2 separate regions of the Homo sapiens genome follow, and region 1 is linked to region 2. The links come from fine-mapping of genetic effects on gene expression. A gene starts in region 2. The other region holds a variant in brackets. All regions are shown on one strand. Distances are from middle to middle. Region 1 overlaps PSME4 (proteasome activator subunit 4). Region 2 holds the start of GPR75 (G protein-coupled receptor 75).

Region 1 (2,914 bases), 73 kb before region 2:
TAGAGTCAAAAATCTAGGGTTTTGAGGGATTCACGATGTCTAACATTTTTACTGTCCGGGAACCAGACTTGTAGCCCGGAAGACTTTCCCAAGGTAGGATTACAACTCAGGATTTGTATGTGCTTAGACTCCATTACTTACTCACTGTTAATATTCACATAAAACATTGCATTGAACATAAAGCTTACTAACAAAGTAATCTTAGTGAAGGGAGAGATGTGAAGGATTACTTTGTTGACATCATTAAAGGAAAGTGAAGACATATCAAGCTTAGATTTCAATGTCATCTTTCATATAAGAATATTAGAACAGCTTCCTATTATAATTATCTAGTTTATCATTCATATATTGCTTCTGCAGCTATTTCTTCATGAATTATTATTCTGTTTTACACGTTAGCTTGTTTCTGTGGAAAAGACAATTTTTTTTTGTTTAAAAGTTTACTTCTTAAACTTCATTGTAAGAAAAACAAATTTAAGCCCCCCCTTGTTTTTGCCATTTTATTGTTACACAGAAAAATCCCATTTTTCTTAATCAGTAGGAGCAAACACTGAAAGATGTTTACTATCTTACATATGCAGTGAGTTGAAACTGGATTTTTGGGGGCTACAGAATTGGATAGTGATTAGTATTAGTTATTGTGTGAGTGAATTTTGCTCTGCTTTCTCACACAGTTCTCATTGGCAACTTCATTTTGTGTTAAGTGTGAAAATATGGCTGAGTGCCATGGCTCACATCTGTAATCCTAGCACTTTGGGAAGCCGAGATGGAAGGATAGCTTGAGCCCAGGAGTTTGAGACCAGCCTGGGCCACATGGCGAGACCCTGTACAAGAAAACAAAAGTAAAAGTAAGCACGGGCATGATAACACATGCCTATGGTATTAGCTCCTCAGCAGGCTGAGGTGGGAGGATCGCTTGAGCCTAGGAGATTGAGGCTGCAGTGAACCATGTTTGTGCCACTGCACTCCACCCTGGACAACAGAGGGAAACGCTTTTTTTTTTTTTTTTTTTTTTTTTTTTGAGATGGTCTCGCTCTATCGCCCAGGCTGGAGTGCAGTAGCGTGATTTCAGCTCACTGCAACCTCCACCTCCCGGGTTCAAGTGATTCTCCTGCCACAGCCTCCCGAGTAGTTGGGACTATAGGCGCCCACCACCATGCCCAGCTAATTTTTGTATTTCTAGTAGAGACAGGGTTTCACCATGTTGGCAAGGCTGGTCTCGAACTCCTGACCTCAAGTGACCTGCCCGCC[T/C]CAGCCTTACATCAGGTTTTTTATGCCTGATGTTAGCATTCTTGGTAATTTTAAGATGATAATCTTAGTGATAAATTTTAGTATCCAGGTTATTTACTGCAGAACAGTAAAGTACGCTGTTTGTTATCCTAAGTTGACAGGTATTTTTTTAGTTTTTTATGTTGGTTCAAGTAAGCTGCCCTTATTTGCAGTAGAATATTTTGAGTTGGTTTGCATGAAGTTCATCAGGGAATTGTTTTTGACTCTTATTTAAAGGTAGAATTTATTTTTGTCAGCAAGTTGACTATAAACTGTATTAGTGATTTACGTATAGGCTTGGGCCTGTTGACCTCTGTTTTTACAGTATGATGTGGGTACTGACATTTTTACTCTTTTATCTGGACAGGGTGGACCAAGTAAGCTAGTGCAAAAACACTTAGCTGGTTTGTTTAACAGCATCACATCTTTTTACCATCCTTCAAATAATGGGCGCTGGCTGGTGAGTAACTTCGTTTTGCATTATAGGGCTTGGAATTTTTAAAGATATGGTCATCCTTGACTATTGCCTATTGTGTGACCTGTAATACATTTTCTGTCCTTCATAGCTTTAGCTATATGTAAATGCTTACATTTAAATTAAATTACTGTGTGGGAGAGCATATAAATTAAATAAATAATATTGATGTGGTAACTGTTGACAACATGGCTCATTTTTGCAAAAAAATGGTAACAAAAATGCCTTAGAAGCATAGAACCATCTTTTCAGTTTTATCCTGTCATCTGTTTTTGTTGTTTTTAAGTTGTCCAGTTAAAATGGCTTTCATGTAATGGAAAATTATGTGCTAGAAATTTTTTTAGACTGGAATTTGAAACTCATTTTCATTAATTATTAGGAATAATTAATTGGTAACTTTTAATTCTATCTAGTTATGCTGTGCAGTTCTTTGTAATAAGATAATAAGAACTGTTATTTTTAAAATCTTTTCTCAAGAAGCTAGAGAGCAACCATGAATGTCTATGCGGCAAAGTAGAACCTACTTAGAACTTTTTGCTTCTGTGTCCCCAGAACAAGTTAATGAAACTACTTCAGCGGTTGCCAAACAGTGTTGTTAGAAGATTGCATCGTGAAAGATACAAGAAGCCCTCTTGGTTAACTCCTGTGCCTGATAGCCACAAGCTTACTGATCAAGATGTTACAGACTTTGTACAATGCATTATTCAGCCTGTCCTCTTGGCTATGTTTAGCAAAACCGGTAGTCTAGAAGCAGCCCAGGCTTTGCAGAATCTTGCACTCATGAGACCTGAATTGGTAATACCCCCTGTACTTGAAAGGTAAGTGGTTAGTGGGAGTCTCAGCCACAGCTAGGTTTTTCTTTTGGTCTGTTCAGCTCGATTCTCTTTTCTCCTCTGTGGCTTCTGTTTTGCTTCTTCGATGCTTATTCCTGTTCCTAGAGGAGAAGCAGGACATTTTAATGTAATGATTGGTAACTTGATAAAGGTTTATTGGAGAGAAAAAAATTGAAATGAAATGGGTAACATACATCTTTTGGATTCTTCACACATTTTAGTTACCAAAATTATATGCTTATGAATTAAGATCTGGCCTTCCTTTTTAGATCGAAATGTTGAGTGTCACTAAGGATTGAGAATATGGCAGTGAAAGTGGTTTTTGGATTTCTTTTAT
Region 2 (2,914 bases):
TATTTATGCAGTAGCTAATTTATTATAGAGAGGTATATAATTTTGATCAGAATTCCCACTCCAAATGCTAATGAGTATTTTTCTGTGGATTGTTTCTGGGACTCATGGTTACCATTATTGATAACATATACTGGAACTGCTTTATTGCAAGTGGTTGGGAAGTGGAATATGTGGGAACTGGAAAACTTTCTTGAAGTTATTTCTAAACAGAATTCTGATGGCATACTCAACTCCTGGACTGAATAATAAGTTATCTAGCCTTCTTGCTTTTTGTTTTTTCGTTTGTTTTTGTTTTGTTTTGTTTTTATGAAAGCACAGGGAACTGAAGAAATTGCATTAATTAAATTACTTGATACTTGCTAGTTCTGTTTTAAAAAGATAAACCATTAGCTAAAATGAAGAATCCAGTATAAGTATTTCATCCGAACGGAATCAACTTTGCTTTTCTGGTAACCAGAGTGAATGAAGGAAAGGGCATTCAAATAACATTCTCTGTTTCTAAATAGCATCCCTGAGGTTAGAAAAGTAGTAAGATCCTAGTTAGCCAGGTTGGGATACTGAAGGGAGAAGAGTTTAACTGGTTTTATTTTGTACCCATCATAGCAGACATACTTAGGAATGTTACTTGATTGTTCAGACTAAAACCTATCTTAGGAGTTCATTATTTTGGACATGTATGAATTCTAGAAGAATGAGAGAGGATGGTAATTTTAGTTTTGTGTTTGTGCTTAATAAAATTAGCTTGTACATTGCACTATGATTTATCAAGATTTTTTACATTCAACATAGTATTAAGTAATACATCAATATCCATGATTCCTGGGCTTGGTCGTTTTATTTGCATGGGTAGTTTCTTTATGCTTTGCATGTTTCCTGCCAATTAGTCCCCTTGCTGAGTTCCCTCAGTGAATTCACTAATACCTTAAGAGAGCTTAGGTAAGTTCAAATAGGTTTAATTTAAATTCTATTACAATGACTTGATTTGTAAATTCTAGGTCTCAAAGTTCCAAACTGGAAGCCGCCGCCAATTTAATTCATGAGGAAAAATATTAGCCGCAGCCTAAGTGAGGAGCTAGTTAGGACGTCTTAAAAGCGCGGGGAACGAGGAGGAGGTGGGCTGCGGGCAGGGTAAGCAGCCTAGGGAGGCCCGCAAAGACCTCCCTGGGTCCCTGCGTGCCATCAGTACCCCTATCTTTCCCTTCCTTCCTTACCACTCCACCTTGCTCTGCGTTTCAGGTTTTGGCTATTTCAGGGAGCTTGAGTTCCCCAAACAGCAAAACTGCGAGCCTGAAAAACCTGGCTCAAGCGCCCCTCGTGAGGCGGGCAGCGGGAGTGGCCGGGCTCTGGGCCCCAGGAGGCAGGCGACGGAGGCGCGGAGGGTGCGGGGCGCAGGCGGGACGCCAGGCCCGGGTGTCCGGCGGAGGGGGCGGTGCCCTCGGCGTCTCCGTGACTGCGCCTCTGCGCCCGCGTCTTGCCGCGGCTCCCGGGATGCGCGGAGGCGGTGGCGATGGCGATGATGCCTCTAGTCCTGCATCATCCAGAGCGGCAGGCGGAGCTGGGGTCCGGACTGCGAGATGGAGGAGGGGCGGCGCTGCGGCCACCCGGCAGGTGAGAGGCCGCGGGCCCCTGGAGGAGGACAACCCCACGATGCCGGAGACGGCTCCCGGAGGCTGGCGGGATAGCGAGGAGCGCGGCTGCGCTGGGCCAGGCCCGGCTCCGCGTACCTGTCTTCCTGGTGCGGCCTGCAGGGTAGCCTTCTCGCCCGTCCCTGCCGGTTCCCAGGCTCTGCTCGGCCGTGGAACCCCCCCCACCCACCCACCCACCGCCCCTACCCTGGCTGAGCCCTCCTAACCCACCACCCCTCTGCGGCATTCTTTTGCAAGCTTACCTGGCCCGGCCTAGGCCCTCCTTACCGTCACCTCACCCTTCTCCGGGAAGCCCCTACCCACCGCCAGCCCCTCACGGGGGGGTCGACCTTCCCTGCCCGCAGTTTCCCACTCTGTCCTCAGGCTGGGGGCTCCCTGGCCTCTTCATCCCTCCCATCAAATGACTCAGGTCTTCCCATCCCATTAGCTGCTCCGGGTTCAATGTAGTTCTACTGGATAGAAAGAGCAAGGGCTTTGAAATCAGATAATGACCTTGGGGAAGTTATCTAACCTCCCTGAGGTTTTCCTGATCGATAGAAATACAATGGGAATCACAATAATACAGAACCTTGCTCTCTGTGAGGATTAGGCTTTGAAAATGCTAACCTAAGACATTTTGGGGCGCGCGGGGAATGGGGTTGGAAGAATTCAGGTCGTGAGTTGATTTATGAAAGCCCCTATAGCATGTTTTAATGTTCACTAAAAATTTAAAACAGCACACTAGATATATCAGAGGCTGTTCACATATCTTAATGAAAAATCATTGCCACTCAAATTATACAATAAATTTTCATCCATATTCTTTGCTTGCTAGTTACTTCAGGATGTCTCATTTGTAAGAATATGCATGTGAATTCATTCTTACTGCAGCTAATATGCATGCTTAAGACTGGTGTTCCAGCTTAAAATCTTTCTGATTTTGTGACTTTAATCACATCTTCTATAACCTATTCTCCGTCCCAGAGATGAAGAGTAGCTTGTATGTTTGCATTGCAAATAACATGGGTAATCTTTATTGAATATTTATGAGTAGCAAAGCAGTATTAATTTATTCCCCTTCCAAAACCACTTTTATTTTCTGCCGTCATCATGTCATTCCAAATTATGGTCACAGCCTCCTTTTTCTTAAAGTCTCAGGAGTTACTACTAAGACCTGAGTTTACTTTCCCTCCATTTTCTTGATTTCTGTTATACTAAAGTTTTTCTGCAAACCTTTTCGTCTTTTCTGTCCTCTGCTTTTTCTCCCTTTTCTCTTCCCAGCCCATGAT

The links. PIP is the estimated chance that this variant, and not a neighbour inherited with it, causes the effect.
Region 1: its variant is the best candidate, but not a certain one, in a credible set for the expression of GPR75 in blood mononuclear cells (TOPMed, PIP 0.69).

What each region holds. Positions count from the first base shown.
Region 1 is chr2:53,931,483-53,934,396 of GRCh38, reverse strand. PSME4 (proteasome activator subunit 4) reads left to right here. Exons shown (of 47, transcript NM_014614.3): 9 at 1,637-1,729; 10 at 2,297-2,562. Among named protein-coding and RNA genes, the nearest start is that of PSME4, 38 kb to the left of the region's middle. The variant T/C (reference allele first, on the strand shown) is at 1,252.
Region 2 is chr2:53,858,522-53,861,435 of GRCh38, reverse strand. It overlaps GPR75 (G protein-coupled receptor 75), which reads left to right and starts at 1,469. Exons shown (of 2, transcript NM_006794.4): 1 at 1,469-1,608. It overlaps GPR75-ASB3 (GPR75-ASB3 readthrough), which reads left to right and starts at 1,469. Exons shown (of 10, transcript NM_001164165.2): 1 at 1,469-1,608. The coding sequence starts at 1,508.